Regions from separate parts of the Homo sapiens genome. Here all the other regions are reported to be linked to region 1. The links are microRNA targets in miRTarBase. Many come from high-throughput screens and were not tested one by one. Region 1 holds a microRNA gene; each other region holds the end of a gene's coding sequence. Distances are between the middles of the regions.

What was found. The annotated mature microRNA hsa-miR-6502-3p reads UAGACCAUCUUUCUAGAGUAU and lies in region 1 at 1,342-1,362, opposite strand. An mRNA with a match to its seed (bases 2 to 7 or 8) in the 3' UTR can be bound and repressed. Matches are read on the target gene's strand: a 7mer-m8 pairs with bases 2 to 8, a 7mer-A1 pairs with bases 2 to 7 and ends in A, and an 8mer does both.
Region 2: miRTarBase lists NANOG as a target of hsa-miR-6502-3p. Seed matches in the 3' UTR shown: 7mer-m8 at 2,668-2,674.
Region 3: the mRNA of PELP1 is a reported target of hsa-miR-6502-3p. Seed matches in the 3' UTR shown: 7mer-m8 at 983-989.
Region 4: miRTarBase lists AFF2 as a target of hsa-miR-6502-3p. The part of its 3' UTR that is shown has no 7-base or 8-base seed match.
Region 5: miRTarBase lists WHAMM as a target of hsa-miR-6502-3p. Seed matches in the 3' UTR shown: 7mer-m8 at 1,270-1,276 and 7mer-m8 at 2,655-2,661.

What each region holds. Positions count from the first base shown.
Region 1 is chr12:66,248,435-66,252,489 of GRCh38, reverse strand. MIR6502 (microRNA 6502) reads right to left here and starts at 1,408; the gene lies at 1,333-1,408. IRAK3 (interleukin 1 receptor associated kinase 3) reads right to left here. Exons shown (of 12, transcript NM_007199.3): 12 at 1-4,055.
Region 2 is chr12:7,794,154-7,798,208 of GRCh38, reverse strand. It overlaps NANOG (Nanog homeobox), which reads right to left. Exons shown (of 4, transcript NM_024865.4): 3 at 3,666-3,752; 4 at 1-3,530. The coding sequence ends at 3,114. Among named protein-coding and RNA genes, the nearest start is that of NANOG, 6.8 kb to the right of the region's middle.
Region 3 is chr17:4,668,659-4,671,658 of GRCh38, reverse strand. PELP1 (proline, glutamate and leucine rich protein 1) reads left to right here. Exons shown (of 17, transcript NM_014389.3): 17 at 128-1,885. The coding sequence ends at 220. Among named protein-coding and RNA genes, the nearest start is that of ALOX15, 28 kb to the right of the region's middle. RefSeq lists an enhancer at 1,463-1,632.
Region 4 is chrX:148,991,004-148,995,058 of GRCh38, forward strand. AFF2 (ALF transcription elongation factor 2) reads left to right here. Exons shown (of 21, transcript NM_002025.4): 21 at 208-4,055. The coding sequence ends at 329. Among named protein-coding and RNA genes, the nearest start is that of AFF2, 490 kb to the left of the region's middle.
Region 5 is chr15:82,832,684-82,836,738 of GRCh38, forward strand. It overlaps WHAMM (WASP homolog associated with actin, golgi membranes and microtubules), which reads left to right. Exons shown (of 10, transcript NM_001080435.3): 10 at 546-3,425. The coding sequence ends at 853. It also overlaps a transcript of HOMER2 not described here. Among named protein-coding and RNA genes, the nearest start is that of WHAMM, 25 kb to the left of the region's middle. RefSeq lists enhancers at 1-802, 1-115.

The sequences.
Region 1 (4,055 bases):
GAAGTTGTAGCAGAGGAGTAGGATAGTGATAAAGGCAGGAGACATGGTACCTACTAAAAATCTGTGGAATCAACAAATGACTTTTCACATCCATCCCTTTTCATAGGAGCTTGAACTGGCAGTGACTCCATTGTGCAATTTGGAACACAAGAAAAAGCATGGATTTTGAAGTCAGACAAATGTGAGTTCAAATCCTGGCTCCTCCAGATCTGGAAGGACCTGATGGGAGGACTGGGAGGACTTGATTTTAGCAAGTTAGTTTCCTGACTCAGTGTCCTCACCTTATTATAAGATGGGATCCACACCTTCAGGGTGACTCTAAGGGTTAACCAGAAAAAAACATGCAAAGCTCTAGACCCAGTTCCCTTCACCCTTACCCCATTTTTCTGGCATTAGGGATGGTTGTGCACAGCTGCTGTGGATCCCCAATTCCTTGAATAGCCATCCTGAGTGCTTCGTCAGTGCTCTTTTCTATTTCTCTTAATTCCGTATCTCTTTTCAGAAACCTTCTCCAAGAAGCCTTCTTCATCCTCTCAAAAATGCATAGTAATCTATTCCTTCTTCTCACCCTTTCAGCATTTACTTCGGTTGCATTGGTGTGTGGTTCAAATAACAGATGTCACTGAACTGTTGACTTGGGTAGATGCCCTGTCTTCCTTATTAAACTGTGTCTTACTTTGTACCTTAGTAGCTAATGCAGTGCTTTGATTCTAGCAGATGCTTAATAAATGCTACTCATGATAAACCTCACTTCCTGTACTCATCAGTCCTCAGGTCATTAAAGTTGTTTTACACAGGGTGATGTGCCACCCTATAAAACTACAATATTATGCAGTGAGTCACAGATCATTACAACTCCCAAGAAGTCAATAAAATTGATTATATCAGAAATCCCATACCTGTTTTTAAAAACAACAAAATGTTTTCTCCATGTGTTTGGGCATTATAAAATGGGACAAAAGCCTGAAGCTTAGTAAATAGGATCTGCCTGGAGGATTGCTCAGAGTGCATTACAAAAATGAGAGTAAATGAAATTATGAATTCATGTTTGCTGATCAGAGGGAACACCCGGAGACTCATTCTTGCTTTCTTATGTATCTTGGTCTCCACATCATGAAACTATAAAGGTATCCTCTTATTACCCATAGAAAGTTGCAACATTTAATTCATATCAACTAACGCTTATTAATACACCCACTAGAAGGCAAATCTAGTCAGGAAGACTGAATCACTCAACAGAAGATTTGGTACTTCCCAGCCACAGTGGCATCTGCTTACCACAACGTTAATCAGGTCACTGCCAGCTTATCTGACTTCATCTTTGAGGTGTCCAAAATAGTTATACTCTAGAAAGATGGTCTAGTCAATAAGATGATTGGTCAACAATCTTTCTAGAGCTCCCACTCTGTGCTAACCAACATCCTATGTAATAGGATGAATATAACAGAATGAAAAGAAAGGATCCTTTTCTCAAAAAACATACCAGTGATGGAAAGGTAGGATCTACCAATCTATAACAATTTAAGAGCACCTTAAGGCAGCGATTTTCACGGATGTGAAGAGCGGGCTTCACATCATTGGCATCAGCATCACCTGGGAACTCATTAGAAAGCAAAATTTCTAACCCCAGACCTATTGCATCAGAAGCTGGGTGGACCCAGCAATCTGCGTTTTTAACCAGCTTTCCAAGTCATTCTGATGCATACTACAGTTTGAGAAACCCTGCTTTAAGTCAGCTAAGCAAGTTCAAATCAACATAATACCCACAGATTATATGTGCGGAGTAACTGCATGGGCCTGGTGTTAATCAGAGCTTCCTTAATGACCCTTCATTGAATGTATTGGTGGGGGTCCATATTCTAAGTGAAAAACAGTTTAACACAGAGTCAATTCTTGATGATCTCTTTTGTGAATCAGAGAGCTCTGAGCAGCCAGATACCGTACAGAGCAGTGGTGGGCATGGGTTCTCCCAACTGCTTACCGAGGGCCTGTATAAAGCCTGTCAGTCAGACTAAGACTTACTGTGGTTTTAATCTCACTTCGTGCTTTTTTGGAAAATTGTAACTCCATGTTTCTGACCTTGGTCTGTTAATCTCACCCTGATTCCTGATGATTTTCTTCTTTGATTAGTTGTTCTTCAACATGGAATCTAATGTGAATATGATTAACCCAACCATACTGACTCACCAAAAAAATAAAATAAAACAAAAGACATGAGCCTATTCCTCTGCTGGACAAGAAACTAGAGGTTTACCCTTCTATTACAAGCTCCTTGGAGAGGAAAATTCAGTAAATCCTCTGAAAATGGTTTTCTTCAGTGTTTCTATCCATCATCATAAGGAGTCATTATCCTCCCTTTGTTAATTTATTCGGCAATGTTTATTATAGCTGAATTATTGATTATGTGGCTTCATAGGGGTAATTTAATTCAACTTAATTTATAAGGAAACACCTGCTCTGTGTAGGATGACACATTAGGCTCTGAAGAGATGGCCCTTACACACTCAGGGAGTATGACAGACAGAGTAATGGTCCCCCGAAGATGTCCACGTCCCAATTCCAGAAACCTGTGAATATGTTACTTTACACGAGAAAACGGACTTTGCAGGTGTAATTAAATTAAGGATCTGAGACACAGAGATTTTCCTGGCTTATATGAGTGGGCCCAGTGAAATCACAAAGGTCTTTATAAAAGACATGCAGAAGGGCCAGAATGAGAGGAAGAGGGTAGTGAAGAGATGCGGTGAGACAGACAGAGAGAGGGAGATCTGAAATGTCACGTTGCTGGCTTTGAAGACGGAGGAAGAGGCCATGAGCCAAAGAAGGCAGGTGGCCTCTAGAAGCTGGAAAAGGCAAGGCAGTGAGTTCTCCCCAACAGCCTCCAGAAAGAATGCTAAGGAATTCTGACCTCCAGAACTGCAAAATAATTAATTTATGTTACTTTAAGTCACTAAATTTGTGATAATGTGTTACAAAAACAATAGAAAACTAATATAGGGAGTTTACAACCTAGTAAAAGAGATGAAGGCTGGGCGCGGTGGCTCACGCCTGTAATCCCAGCACTTTGGGAGGCCAGGCAGGCGGATCATGAGGTCAGGAGATCGAGACCATCCTGCCTAACATGGTGAAACCCCGTCTCTACTAAAAATACAAAAAATTAGCCGGGCGTAGTGGCGGGCGCCTGTAGTCCCACCTTTACTCGGGAGGCTGAGGCAGGAGAATGGCGTGAACCCGGGAGGCAGACCTTGCGGTGAGCCGAGATTGTGCCACTGCACTCCAGCCTGGATGACAGAGCGAGACTCCGTCTCAAAAAAAAAAAGAGATAAGACAAGCAGCTTTGATATAATTCAGAAAGTGATAAATATAAAATAGAAATACAAAGAAATTGCTGTGGAAATACTGATAAAGGGAGTACTTCTGGTTGTAGAGATTAGGGAAGCTTCCAGGAGGTGGCTGTTTTGTAGAGCTCTGATGATTGGTAGGATTTCAAAAGAGGGAGATCCAAGAAACAGCAGGAATGAAGGCCCAGAGTTGAAAGGTGTAGATTAAACAAAAAGCTGACCTAGGCCCTTGACCAGCCATTTTCTCAGGAATAAAAATTACTTGATGGACATTTCACATAGTCTCCTTAAGATATAATAGGTCACTAAGTCTGTTTTTAAAAAGCTGTAATAATAGTCAATACAGGATAAACTGTCCTAAGAGTTTAGGATAGATCTTGGGAAGAAATCCCCTTTCAACCCAGAGCATGCCGTAGCTAAGGGTGAACCTGGCTCATTTTCAGACAAGCAGGCTAGTCAGGGATTAACCAAAAAACAAGAGGGGTCAATCAGAATAACAAGGTGATTCTTTCCAAAGGTATCTATTAACATTTACAAATTAGACATTTCCTACAACCCGTGCAAGCAAGCTAAACCAAACGATGGAATCCAACTGAATGTTCTTGGCAGATGGAGGCTCTGAGGACTCACACTGAGGATGATGGAGAGGACATTACAATCCAGTCCCTTTTTGGTAGGTTTTGATTGTTTTGTTTGGCTGAAGTCAGAACCCAT
Region 2 (4,055 bases), 58 Mb from region 1:
GACAGGGTTTCGCCATATTGGCCATGCTAAACTTGAACTCCTGACCTCAGGTGATCCACCTGCCTTGGTCTCCCGAAGTGCTGGGATTACAGGTGTGAGCCACGGCACCTGGCCCACTAATCTTACTGCTTTTGACTGTAGTTATTATTGTTACTTTAAAGATTATTCCAAATAGATCTCTAAATTCTTACCTGCCAAGAGGTTGAAGATTAATACTGGGTGATTAAAAAAAAAAAAGTTCAGAAAACATAATACAGGGCTAGGCTGGTGACTCATGCCTGTAATCTCAGCACTTCGGGAGGCCAAGGCTGGTAGACTGCTTGAGCTCAGGAGTTTGAGACTAGCCAGGCCAACATGGGGAAACCCCGTCTCTCCTAAAAACACAAAAGTTAGCTGGCATGGTGGTGTGCACCTATAGTCTGGGCTATTTGAGAGACTCAGGCAGGAGGATTGCTTGAATCCGGGAAGTCGAGGCTACAGTGAGGTGAAATGGTGCCACTAAGCCCCAGTCTGAGCAGCAGAATAAGCCCGTCTTAAAAAAATAAAAAAGAAGGCTGGGCACTGTGGCTCATGCCTGTAATCCTAGCACTTTGGGAGACCGAGGAGGGTGGATTACCTGAGGTCAGGAGTTCGAGACCAGCCTGGTCAATACGGTGAAACCCCATCTCTACTAAATACAAAGAATTAGCTGGGCATAGTGGCAAATCCCTGTAATACCAGCCACTCGAAAGGCTGAGGCAAGAGAATCACTTGAACCTGGGAGGTGCAGGTTGCAGTGAGTAGAGATTGCATCATTGTGCTCCAGCCTGAGTAACAAAAGTGAAGTTCCATCTCAAAAAAAAAAAAAAAAATTGCCCAGACACGGTGGCTCACACCTATAATCCCACCACTTTGGGAGGCCGAGTCAGGTGGATCACCTGAGGTCAGGAGTTCGAGACCAGGCTGGCCAACATGGTGAAACCCCATCTCTACTAAAAATACCAAAAATTAGCCGGGTGTAATGTTGGGTGCCTGTAATCCCAGCTACTTAGGAGGCTGACGCAGGAGAATTGCTCGAACCCAGGAGGCGGAGGTTGCAGTGAGCCAAGATTGTGCCACTGCACTCCAGCCTGGGCAATAGAGAGAGACTGTCTAAAAAAACAAACGATAGGCCAGGCGCAGTGGCTCACGCCTGTAATCCCAACACTTTGGGAGGCCAAGGCTGGTGGATCATGAGGTCAGGAGTTCAAGACCAGCCTGGCCAACATAGTGAAACCCTGTCTCTACTAAAAATACAATTAGCTGGGCATGGTGGCTCACCCCTGTAGTCCCAGCTACTTGGGAGGCTGAGGCAGGAGAATCACTTGAACTCGGGAGGCGGAGGTTGCGGTGAGCCGAGATCGCTCCACTACACTCCAGCCTGGGCAACAGAGTAAGACTCCAGTCTTAAAAAAAAACAAAATAAAACAAAAAAAAAACACTTGGAATTAGACTGGATAGTCTTAGTAACATTGGACAATTGGGGAAATAATGAGAGAAAAGACTGGAAAAAACCACTCTGATAACCTGCATCATGCTGCTTCAGAGTGAAGGGACGTGCTCTCAGATCAGATACATTTAGGGCAGGCACAAGATGGGAAAAGGACAGTAAAGGATTATTAGTATAATTCACAGATGCCTGCGTAGCTGCTCTTAAGGTGAGAACATAAATCTGTTTCAACTAGCCTTAGAATTTACTTACATATAGGCCTCTGATGAAACTTTAAATGTTAGCATCAATTACAGATTCATACACGGAAATAACCCATTACATTTGTAGATGCACATGTACAATGCACGTAAGTGCCCTTTTTTCTAAAACTGGCATATTTATTATTCATTCATTCTAAAACTGGCATATTTATTTATTATTCATTTATTTACTTATTTATTTATTTATTTTTGAGATGGGAGTTTTGCTCTTGTCGCCCAAGCTGGAGTGCAGTGGTGTGATATTGGCTCACTACAACCTCCACCTACCAGGTTCAAGCGATTCTCCTGCCTCAGCCTCCCAAATAGCTGGGACTACAGGCATAGGCCACCACGCTCAGCTATTTCTATGCATTTCTAAGATAGCAGTGTCCTCAGCTAATTTCCTTCTCCACCCCAACCAAAAATTTAACAAAGATTTATGTTTAAGCTGTATATTTACTCATTGAAACACTCGGTGAAATCAGGGTAAAATCAACTAAAGGAAAAATAGTTGTTTCATTCATTTGAACTTAAACCAACTAAAGCAGTACTCATGTCATTACGATGCAGCAAATACGAGACCTCTTTCTACAAAGATTAGCACAACCAACAAATTAGGGGATATAGCAAAACAGAGCCAAAAACGGTAAGAAATCAATTAAGTATGTTACAGCTTAACCCTTTACCTCAATAGTTTTTAAAAAATAAGCAAAGCCTCCCAATCCCAAACAATACGAATACATCTTCATCACCAATTTGTACTTGTATTTCTTATTCTTGAGGTTAGATTCTAAACCCTAAAGATATCCAAACTAGTATTAGATCTACTTATCTATAGCCAGAGACGGCAGCCAAGGTTATTAAAATGTCTTTTCTAGGCAGGGCGCGGTGGCTCACGCCTGTAAATCCCAGCTGTTAGGGAGGCCGAGGCGGGTGGATCACAAGGTCAGGAGATCGAGACCATCCTGGCTAACACAGTGAAACCCCGTCTCTACTAAAAATACAAAATATTAGCCGGGCGAGGTGGCGGGCGCCTGTAGTCCCAGCTGCTCGGGAGGCTGAGGCAGGAGAATGGCGTGAACCCGGGAGACGGAGCTTGCAGTGAGCCAAGACCGCGCCACTGCACTCCAGCCTGGGCGACAGAGCAAGACTCCGTTTCAAAAAAAAAAAAAAAAAAAGTATTTTCTCCAGGAAGATCCAATAGGAAAAAAAAAAAAAAAGAAACCTCGCTGATTAGGCTCCAACCATACTCCACCCTCCATGAGATTGACTGGATGGGCATCATGGAAACCAGAACACGTGGTTTCCAAACAAGAAAAATCCTATGAGGGATGGGAGGAGGGGAGAGGAAGGATTCAGCCAGTGTCCAGACTGAAATTGAGTAATATCAGTTTCACTCATCTTCACACGTCTTCAGGTTGCATGTTCATGGAGTAGTTTAGGAATAAATCCATGGTTTGTGGAGTACTAAAATACCTAGTGGTCTGCTGTATTACATTAAGGCCTTCCCCAGCAGCTTCCAAGGCAGCCTCCAAGTCACTGGCAGGAGAATTTGGCTGGAACTGCATGCAGGACTGCAGAGATTCCTCTCCACAGTTATAGAAGGGACTGTTCCAGGCCTGATTGTTCCAGGATTGGGTGCACCAGGTCTGAGTGTTCCAGGAGTGGTTGCTCCAGGACTGGATGTTCTGGGTCTGGTTGCTCCAGGTTGAATTGTTCCAGGTCTGGTTGCTCCACATTGGAAGGTTCCCAGTCGGGTTCACCAGGCATCCCTGGTGGTAGGAAGAGTAAAGGCTGGGGTAGGTAGGTGCTGAGGCCTTCTGAAAGAGAAGGAGGGATTAACAGAAAGGGTACAAGGACAACCAGAACTGTCTGTGACTGGAGTTGTGTGTTTCAGGGATGGACAAGATTGAAAGATCACTGAAAGGAAAGAACAGAATGAAGTTTCCTGTTACCTGCGTCACACCATTGCTATTCTTCGGCCAGTTGTTTTTCTGCCACCTCTTAGATTTCATTCTCTGGTTCTGGAACCAGGTCTTCACCTGCAGGAAAAAATGATAGAAATTGTAAAATATTCATAATACAGAGGTACTTTGAATCAAAGTATATTGCTAACTTTTATTCCTGGCCAGGTGCCATATCTCATGCCTGTAATCCCAACACTTTGGAAGGCCAAGGCGGGCAGATTGCTTGAGCCCAGGAGTTCGCTACAGGCTAGCCAACATGAGGAAACACCGTGTCTACAAAAATACAAAAAATTAGCCGGGTGTAATGCTGCACGTCTGTGGTCCCAGCTTCTCAGGAGGCTGAGACGGGAGGATCGCTTGCACCTGGGAAGTGAAGGC
Region 3 (3,000 bases), not on the chromosome of region 1:
GAGAAGGTGGGGCTGGCGGGAGAAGGGGTGGCAGCTGCTTCTCTTAGGAGAGGTTTGCCCAGCCTGAACCATTCTTCTGTGTATGTGTGTGTGACTATTCTGAATCTTGTATCTTTGTGCCTAAAAGGAGCAGGATGACACAGCTGCCATGCTGGCCGACTTCATCGATTGTCCCCCTGATGATGAGAAGCCACCACCTCCCACAGAGCCTGACTCCTAGCCATCTTCTGCACCCCACTCTTTGTTTCCAATAAAGTTATGTCCTTAGATAGCGACTGCTGCTTCTGCCTTTTGCCACACCTGGGTCCCCAGCCAGAAGCTCAAGTGTCTGCTGGGCTTTTCAGGGTGTCCATAGTATTCCCCAGATGTCTCCATAGCTGTCCTCTTTTTGACGATCCAGAGAGGAACAACTGACATTGGTGTAATGGACTGTCCCATCACTCAGCACGATGGTGTCAGAATTGTAGGATTCTGGCTGGATGCTAAACGTGCAGAATTGTGTGTAGGGTTAAGAATGAGGAGTTATAGAGACACAGCCCTGCTTTCGTGTTTGTATTCGGGGTGGGAAATGTGTGGAGAATGCATCCTAGTGAGTGGACCTGTGTCAACACCCACATGCCCACACGCATGCGTGCTCAGCCCCTTGGTCTGAAAGGGCAGGCTGAGTGATTGCTCAGTCTATGGAAGTTTAGGAAATTAGGAAAAGGTGTGGAGCAGTTTAGTCATTGAATTCTGGGAAATTTGGACCTTACCCCAAGATGAAAGGGTGTCCGTAGTGGGTACGTTGGGAATGACCTCTGTTTTGGGGCTAGTCCTCCTAATGACAGTTCCCCTCACAGCTCCCTGGCAGGAGTTTGATAAGCTCACCCCAGGCCTTCCTGCTCACTCTTGAGGTGTGGATATTTCCCACCCAGTGTCTTTTCTTTTCTTTTTTTTTTTGAGATGGACTCCTGCTCTGTCGCCCAGGCTGGAGTGCAGTGGCATGGTCTCAGCTCACTGCAACCTCTGCCTCCCAGGTTCAAGCAATTCTCTGCCTCAGCCTCCTGAGTAGCTGGGATTACAGGCGCCTGCCACTGCCTGGCTAATTTTTGTATTTTTAGTAGAGGTGGGGTTTCACCATGTTGGCCAGGCTGGTCTTGAACTCCTGAGCTCATGGTCCACCTGCCTTGGACTCCCAAAGTGCTGGGATCACAAGCATGAGACACCGCACCTGACTGTCCCAGTGTCTTTTCTTTAAGCACTAATCCTATTCTAGGCCTTGCTGGGATGGACGTGTGAGGATGAACCGAGAGATGTGTCTGTGAGAGGGTACCAAGATTGGTGGGCTTGAACTAGGGGCCCCGTGGTTTTTTTTGCTCAGTCAGTTGAATCATGAACGTAAGTAAAGTGCCTTCGCAATGCAGAAGAGGGAGTCATTTCTCCCAACATGTATCCTGAAGAGCCCTTTGAGGAGGTGGCATTTGAGCTAATTTTTGGAAACTTCAGTAGGATTTTAAAAAGTTACCCCTCAACTTGTTTTCGAAATAAACAGAAAAGTGAGAACAGTATAATAGATAACCTTTGCCTAGATTTGCCAATTAACATTTAGTCATGTTAACTCTTATCCCTATAAACTGCGTATCTACATGTAGACATGTATCTATATTACACCCATATATCTGTCTAATCTATACATCTGTAGTTATACACATTTCTTTTTTCATGGGACCACGTGAAAGTAAGCTGTAGACACCGTGGCCCTTCCCATCCCAGATTCTTTAACATGAATTATCTTCTAAGATAAGAATGTTTTTCTGCACAATCCTGATACCATTATCAAACCTAAGAAAAATAACAGTAATCCAGTGATAATTGTGATATTAAAATTTTCCTATTAATTCCTAAACTGTCTTAATAGCTTTTTTTTTTTTTTTTCCTCCTCTGAGTTCAAGAGGAATTTCTTCTAGGTGGAGAAGGCCCTGGAAGGTTTAAGGATCACTGCAAGGACAAGGGTGTAGTGTGAAAAGTGCAATAGTGGTTTTTCAGAAAGGGAAAGAACCTGATTTCTGGAAACTAGATAGGTGAAGTTGACATTGATTTTGGGGAAGAGGCTAGAACAGAATTTTTTCTCATTTGAATGGTGTTCTGGATCGGGAAAACATCCACATGGTTCAAAACTCAAGAGGTACAAAAGGTTTGTTGAAAAGTCCTCTTTAGCCATGAGATTTTCTGCCAGAGCAGCCAGTATGATCAGTTTTTGCATATTCATCTGGAGATATTGTATGCACATACAAATATATATATAATTTTAAATGCAAATGGTAGTATATTATCACGTAACATAAATCAGAGGCTGTCTCTACTAAAAAATGCAAAAAATTAGCTGGGTGTGGTGGCAGGCACCTGTAGTCCCAGCTGCTCAGGAGGCTGAGGTGAGAGAATGGCGTGAACCCGGGAGGCGGAGCTTGCAGTGAGCCATCGCGCCACTGCACTCCAGCCTGGGCGACAGTGAGACTCCATCTCAAAAAAAAAATTAGCTGGATGTGGTGGAGTGCACCTGTAATCTCAGCTACTCGGGAGGCTGAGACAGGAGAATTGCTTGAACCCAGGAGGCGGAAATTGCAGTGAGCCGAGATCGCGCCACTGCACTCCAGCCTGGGCAACAGAGTGAGATTTCGTCTAAAAAAAAAAAATATATATATATATATATATATATATATATATATGTGTGATATATATATATATGTGTGTGTGTGTATATATATATGTGTGTGTATATATATATGTGTGTATATATATGTGTATATATATATGTGTGTATATATGTGTGTGTGTATATATATGTATGTGTGTATATGCATGTATGTATCTATATGTATGTGTGTATATATATGTATGTATGTGTATATATATAATGTATGTAACTATAGGTCCACAGGAGGTTGCAGAGATGCTAATGAGAGGGTAGGGATGACAAGCTGTCCTTCAGCCAGTTTCCTCCAGTGGTTACATCTTACATTA
Region 4 (4,055 bases), not on the chromosome of region 1:
ATTAAAATAATAGGGCTTGATAAACTTGTGGAGTTTTGGTCTCCTAGTAGGCACTCTATAAATGTTTGTTGAATGAATGAATGGACAAATGAATCACATTTCCATTGTCCATGTGGTTGTGGTGTTGTGTGAAAGCAGCTTCTCAATGTGGTGCATATTTTCATGATATCATATAAAGGCCTAACTGAGAACTGCTCTGCTTTTCAGAATTCTTTGGTGATCTGGACACGCTGATGGGGCCTCTGACCCAGCACAGCAGCATGACCAATCTTGTCCGCTACGTTCGCCAAGGACTGTGTTGGCTGCGCATCGATGCCCACTTGTTGTAGTGGGTGTTCTCAGATCTCTAGCATCACGACCCATCACTCTACCTCTACCAGCGCACTGATGGTCACTGGTGGAACTCCACTCACTGGGGAACGTTCTCTTTGGTTATGTTTGTTTTTATGCTTCTTTTGTTATCTGTAAAAAACAGAAGTCATTGTAAGTTGACACTACAACTTAAGGGCAGTGTACGTTTTATTACTTAGTCATTTTTTTTCTTTTAGCATTTGATATGCATTTCTCAGATTCCACCATCTTTTTGTGCTTTATGGAATGACAGTCCCTACAATATTGTTTTAAGCCCACACTACCCAAAACAAAGAATGGGAAGCACTTGTGATAAAGACAGGCTCCTGAGAAATGCAACAAGTGGTCTTACATATACATGAGAACTTAGACACAAGGGACCATCCCCCAAACTCTACTCTTATACCCAGAAAAGAACATATTTCAGAATCTGTCAAACTTTTGTGTATCCCACAGATTCAATCTTCAGGTGAGAATTTTCATTGTCAAAACCCACTGGTTAGATGTTGTAGCAACATCATAAAATCAAGAGTATCAAGAAAATAAATGAGCATAGCAATGCTACTCTTAAAAAGATGCTATGCCACACAACCAGAGGACTTTCTTGTTAGCATCCCTTTCCTGATTCCCTATTTTGTTAATTTTAATGATAAGAAGAAAGGGTGACATTTATTTTGACAAGTTTTAGGCATCAGCTGGCATCAGTGTTTTTCAACTCCATTATTTGAAGTGTAAATCCTCACCTGGGGTTCTCTGTGTGCAAAGCTGTCCTTTTGAAGAACAGTTTGGTTGATGCATGCCTTAGTAGCCAAAATGCTACACTCTAGACTTACAAGTGGGAGTTAAGAGAGGTCTGGAAAGTGTCCAACAAGGAATTCACACCTCTGCCTCCTTTGCAACAACAACATTTACACAGTTGGTAAGTGGGTCCATAACTGGCAGGATTTTTAAATTGTATTTTGCTCAAATCTATGGGAACAAAAGTCAAGGTATCACTACCTAGAAGTAATGATATACAGTTTTCTTCCTAGTGGCTTGAAAATCTGGACTTCCTCAATTATTATTCACATTTTCTCTCTTATAGGTTTTCTGTTTTCTACTTTCTTTTTTCTCTTATCTGTGTTTCCCTTTCCTTTGTTTGGCTCATTAACTTTTGACTGAATTACAATTACTCCTTTTATTAAAGTCCATATTATTGTGAATCATTTCCATGAAAATTTCTAAGAAAACTCCAAACTCTCTAAATAGTAGCTAACTTTTATTTTTTTAAAATGAGTCGTGGGGTAGTGCTTCACCTTGAGATGCTTTGAAAGAGCCCTAAACATTGGGAACCATTCACCTAATTTGGAGACATTTCTCACTGGTTGTGACTACCCCCTTATGATCCTTCACATTCATTTTATGTCCCTAAACATCACAATGTAAATATCATTTTTGATGTTCCAGCTCACCAGAAGATTCTTACACTTGGGGTAAACACTATCCATGCATTACTTACTGGTAATTACCTGCTGGTATATAATTCCATGTAGCCTTTAATATGCTGGGTTATCAAATTCTGTTCACTGAGTTATGACCAGATAAATAATAGATATGCACATGAAAGATGCAAACTTGTGTGATTATTAAAGCCAGCCATGCAGGTCCATGATAGAAACAGCAGGTGATGACTCTGCACTCTCATTGTCAAGGTTAGATATATCCCCAGTTGCAAAACAGCCAGACTTGAGCTGTGCTCTGGTCATCTTTGAGTTTAAGGCCTTTTGTTGTATAAGGCTGTGGAAGTTGTACTCCAATGGCTGAAGCCATGTTGTTAATATGGCTGATGGGAGCATCCCTGCAGCTGAACCCAGCACTTTTTATGCTCCCACTGTGGTTGAGCTTTATGTTTACAGTCTCAGCAACAACACTTATGCATCCAAACACTCACAAATGAAACCTGAAAGAATCTTTTCTGAGCCTCTTAAAAGAGGAAAATGATGATAACATTAAAGACTCTGAACACCCAAGGTTGGTGTCACATATAAAAATTAAGCTGATGACTTTGCAGTGACTCAAGTTGTCTCTTTATCATGGTTTACCAGGTAGAGTGCCTGGCTATTACTATATAATGAAGCCCACTGGCTTGACTTGTAAGTTCAACCTAAACCACAATCCTAGACCATCATGGATTTAGGAGTAGATTCTTCTTGAAATCCCACATCCAGAAACTAGACATTAGAATGTTGAGGCAGTTTCCCAGAGAAACAAGCATATTGCCTCATGGATGAAAGACTTGTAGTTCTAGTTTCAGTGACTTGTTATATCTACTTACATACAACAGGGAGGCAAGAGGATTCTCTGTCATCTCTGGTGACTGAGTGTAAAATATGTGCCAAGTCTGCAGCACAGTGACCAAATCTGACAATCGAGCTCTGGATCACCACTTGATTATGTAGTAGACTCATTTATAAAGCAGCTTAGGAACTAATTAAACATGGAGGATGAATTACCTTCCTATCCCTTGAGATAAGACATCTTTCAGTTTCATGATTAAGGATTGTTGCTGTTTTATAGTTACTCTGTTCATCACAGTGTAAATGGTGATGCGTGTCGTAGGTGTGCAGCTATTTGAGGGACTAAGGGATGGAGATATTCTGTCAAATGAATCTCTTCAGTATACCAGTTTGTGGGAGGGATATGAGACATGTGGATGGCAGTGAGAGATCGTGCCTCTAGATCTTGATGGAGGCTTGGTGAGACACACTTAAATAAGCACGTGGAGGTTAGAATAGAGGGCAGAGTAAAAGGAAGCTCCATCTGAGCAAGTACACCAAATGATCTCAGCCCTGCAACTTGACCCAGGTAGGGCCACCACTACGCCTTCACTTGTCACCCAAGCTCCAACCACAGAGAGTTTGACAAGTTTGTGTTATGATGTTGGCTTGGCTTTGTATTTTTAATTAACTTTGGATTTTTAGTGGTTTTGTCATATAACTGTCTGAGTTTGGTAGGTAGGATTACTTTGAAAAGGGTTTACTAGTGTGGTCCTCCGGGTAGAATTTAGCTGTAAGCATGTTGTTAGCCAGCCTGTAGACTGTTAATTACTTAATAATCTCATTGGGAAAATACTAGTAGTTTTATATTTGGATGACATAATTGGAAAAGCAGATTAGCTGCTACTACTTTTAAAAGACTTAAGGTCGGGATGCCTTTTTTTCCATGTAAGGAAATGAAAAGACCAAAATCTTCAGGCAAAAAGCAAGTTGCAAAATTAGAAACCATTGGCTAAAAATGTGTTTTGTTGAGTTTCCAAATGGATGAATTTTCATTTGGACATTACATCACTAAATTCATTAGATTTTGTCTGCATTGGAAAGATACTCTTCTAGCATATCTTTCCCAAAGATATCTAATTTGGATTCTGTTTCATGCAAATTTGCATCCCGGAGGTTGAAGTTGGAGTTTGAGGTTGGAAAATATCTTTGAAGGCAGAATCAGTTGAGTTGTGAGGGTGAAGCCTCACATACTTCTCAACAGACATGATAAAATTCACCTGCATGAGTTGGCAGGTGGGAGAACCAAACTGGATCACTGGGTAAGACTACTCAGTAAAGCAATGAACTGCTTGCTTAGAGAAGCATCACTATCCCCATTGAGAAAAATGTGTGGCAAGATGATACAGCTACACAGTATCAAATGAATGGGTCAATTCAGCACCCCCA
Region 5 (4,055 bases), not on the chromosome of region 1:
GTTTTATTTTAAGCCTTTTCATGTGTAGAAACCTACTCACTTCATTGTCATAGAATGAGTCATCACTGACTAATACCCAAGACTGAAGTTAAATTGAGCAGGATAAATTTTTTTTAAAAGATTTCTTTTAGCTGGACAGGGTAATGAAGGAGATACAGCTTCAGAGGTATCCAGGTCACGCACAGTGGGTGAGACTATTCCACCCCAGGCCTCCGTAACACTCTTCAGGATGGGAGGGACAGATCACATTTGTCTTGAAAAACCGTCATTCTAACAAAAGTGCATGTCTGTTCCTGTCAGTTGCTATGGATTTGAAGAAGTTAGCAGAAAGGAAGTGGTTAAGCTAAAACATGAGCTATTCAGCTGTCCTGGATTCAACCAGGGAGCTTATCGTTAGCACGTAATCAAGGCATTTGCTTAATGAAGTGATTATTTGTTTAAATCATGGTGTTAACTGATAGGAGATTTCACAATTTCATAGCAGTAATGTCCTGGGAAGGGAAAGTGTTTTATTGATAGTACTAGCTCTGCTTATTCAATTTCAGGATCTATGGATGAAGTGTTGGCCTCCTTAAGGCATGGCAGAGCTCCTCTCCGGAAGGTGGAAGTGCCGGCGGTGCGCCCTCCCCACGCCTCAATCAATGAGCACATTCTGGCTGCCATAAGGCAAGGGGTCAAACTGAAGAAAGTTCACCCTGATCTTGGCCCAAACCCCAGCAGCAAACCAACCAGCAACAGACGCACCAGTGACCTTGAGAGGAGCATCAAGGCTGCGCTCCAGAGAATCAAGAGGGTGTCTGCTGACTCTGAGGAGGACAGTGATGAGCAGGACCCTGGCCAGTGGGATGGTTAGGCTCAAGTTTGACAAAGGCACCTGCCACAGTAGGCTTGAATAAAGTGGGTGAGTCTTAGACCTATCGAAAAGCATACTAACAGGGTGCTGATAGATGGGCCACATAACACCCCGGAAGATCAGCAGGGCCTTGTGTAGGCTGCTGCAGCATTTTTTTTTTTTTTCTTTTTTGAGATGGAGTCTCACTCTGTCGCCCAGGCTGGGGTGCAGTGGCGCCATCTCGGCTCACCGCAAGCTCCGCTTCCCAGGCTGGGGTGCAGTGGTGCGATCTTGGCTCACTGCAAGCTCCGCCTCCTGGGTTCACGCCATTCTCCTGCCTCAGCCTCCCGAGTAGCTGGGACTACAGGCGCCACCACCTTGCCCAACTAATTTTTTGTATTTTTTAGTAGAGACGAGGTTTCACCGTGTTAGCCAGGATGGTCTCGATCTTCTGACCTCGTGATCCGCCTGCCTCAGACTCCCAAAGTGCTGGGATTACAGGTGTGAGCCACCACGCCCAGCCTTTTTTTTTTCTTTCTTTTGAGACAGAATCTCTCTGTCATCCAGGCTAGAGTGCAGTGGCACGATCTTGGCTTACTGCAACCTCCACCTCCCAGGTTCAAGCAATTCTCTGTCTCAGCCTCCCGAGTAGCTGGGATTACAGGCATGCACCACCACGCCTGGCTAATTTTTGTATATTTAAGTAGAGACAAGGTTTCGCTATGTTGGCCAGGCTGGTCTTGAACTCCTGACCTCGTGATCCACCTGCCTTGGCCACCCAAAGTGTTGGGATTATAGGCATGAGCCACCGTGCCTGGCTGATGCTGGAGCTTTTATGTGACATGGTGACTCTTAAAACTGGGGAGGGACGTAGAGATGAGAGTTTCACACACCAGCCCATAGGTGGGATGTCAAGACCCATCGGAAGTGTCGCTGGCCTAAGAGAAGAGCACTTATTTCTCACCATGGCTGATCTAGAATTGTTCCCTGATTCTGAAAGAAGTTTACACTACACTGGTAAGCAGTACTATTAGACTACTGACTGTGGCCTTCTGTGCATATGGAATAATGATTTCTCAGATTTGTAGGCTTGAATGTGAATGTTATTTTATCAGTAATCAGAATAAATTGCTTATATTCAGGAGTTATTTTAAATATTTAAATGAAATTTATTTTAGGCACCAAGCACTACATAAACTCATAATAACTATTTGCAATGCATTAGCATCACTCACGGGGTAATGAAAACATACCTTAGCTGCTGTAAAAGCAAAGTCTTCCGTGTCCGGGTGGGCTGAAAGTTTTTAATAAAATTTTAGCTAAACATTTGTTTAAGTGAATACTAAGGATGGAGCAATAGTGTTATTTTCCTCAGGAACTGAAGTCTCATGCTGAAGTATTTTCTCCTTAAAATTAAATTTTTAAAATCAGGGAAGGGGAAGGGACTGATGCAAAGCAGTCCGTTCATTTCTCAGACTGCGAGCATCCCTACTAACCTCATCACCCTCACTCTGGTGATATTACTCCTGGGTCTCCACAGAACAAAAGGAACGCACCTCGTTTACAAAGAAAGTCCTGATTGATATAGAACAGAAATCTTCCTACTTCAGTTTTTTTGTTTTTTTTTTTGAGACAGAGTCTTGCTCTGTCAACCAGGCTGGAGTGCGGTGGCACGATCTCAGCTCACTGCAACCTCTGCCTCCTGGGTTCAAGTGATTCTCCTGCCTCAGCCTCTCGAGTAGCTGGGACTACAGGCGTGTGCCACCACACCCAGCTAATTTTTATATTTTTAGTAGAGATGGGGTTTCACCATGTTGGCAGGATGGTCTCGATCTCTTGACCTCGTGATCCTCCCACCTTGGCCTCCCAAATGCTGGGGGTTACAGGCGTGAGCCACCACACCTGGCCTTCCAGTGTCTTAACTAACTGGTACACAGCAGCCTGAGGGGCCTCAGTTGGCACAGCTGGGAGGGGCGTGAGTCCCTTTCAGCAGCTGCAGCCTGGGTCTCCCTCTGTGGCATGGCCACTGCCAGGTTTCCCAGCCACTGCCAGGTTGCCCACGGGTCTGTCATGTGTGCTACCTTTTCAGAATGCAAATCCAACTCCTGTGTATGAATGAATGTGCCTCACTGTGCTGGCCCAGGCCTGATGGGCCAAGCCCTGACTCTGCACTGGCCCCTGTACCTGCCGCTCCCACCCAGGTTCCCAGGGGTGTTCCAGTGGGGGACGCAACCTGCGGGCTACTCGCTGGGCATCAGGTCCAGATCCCAGAGACAGGTCCAGTGGCTGTGGCCCAGGCCTCCTTCCCCACCACAGACAGGCCAGGCTCAGCATCAAACTTCCTAGGGAAAGAATTTGGAATTGAAAAAGTAGCAAAATCACAACTTTGTGGGACTTTTCTTATGCATATTTTGCAGTTTGGCATTGTTTGTAATTACGTATTTATAATTTCAGTATTTTGAGATACCAGCGAGCTTAATCAGGCTAAAATAATTCTCAGAATTTGCTTTCTAAGGGCTGCCAAACACAAGAGGCCTTTGAAAAAAGGATCCTTTTCAAAAGAACGTTCTCACAATAAAAATTCCTGGCCCAATTGTGTCTTCTGTGCATCAACGCTTCCTTTCCTCCTCTGGAACCTTCTCTCCTTCCTTTCTCCCTTTTCCTGCTTTTTCCAGCCAAGCCTTGAAGTCAATCCAGACTTTGGCTTCAGGGAATTCAGAGCCAAGGAAGTGGGGACAAGTGTCTCCTATTGCCCAGCTTCAGAGCTCTCCAGTCGGCCTCCAAAGCACTGCCAGTCTTCACCTCTCCCTGGCTTTCCAGCCCACACAGGAAGGGCAGCCCCTCAGCCTGGCAGACAAAACCCTCAGAGACTTGGTTGCCTCCCCTGGGCAGCCCCTGCCCCTGCCACAGGTTTTAGTCCAGCAATACCATGCTGCTTCCTGCCTGCCCCCAAAGGGCCTGCTCTCTTAAGTGCCTGGAATTCTCCCTGCACCCTTCATGTCCTGGCAAACCCATGCCCATCCTTAGGTCTCAACCCCACAGCCTTTTCCGCCAGGTCTTCTCTGACCTCTCTCTCCTATACAGCCATGTACTTTGTCTTGGGAGTCTGGTACAAAGGAGGACTGGCATCTGCTCCTAGTACAGCCAATCCTATGGATTGTCCTGGAGTGAAAAGCATTGAGCTAGGCCAGTCAGACTTGTGTATTCATCTGTTCGTCCATTC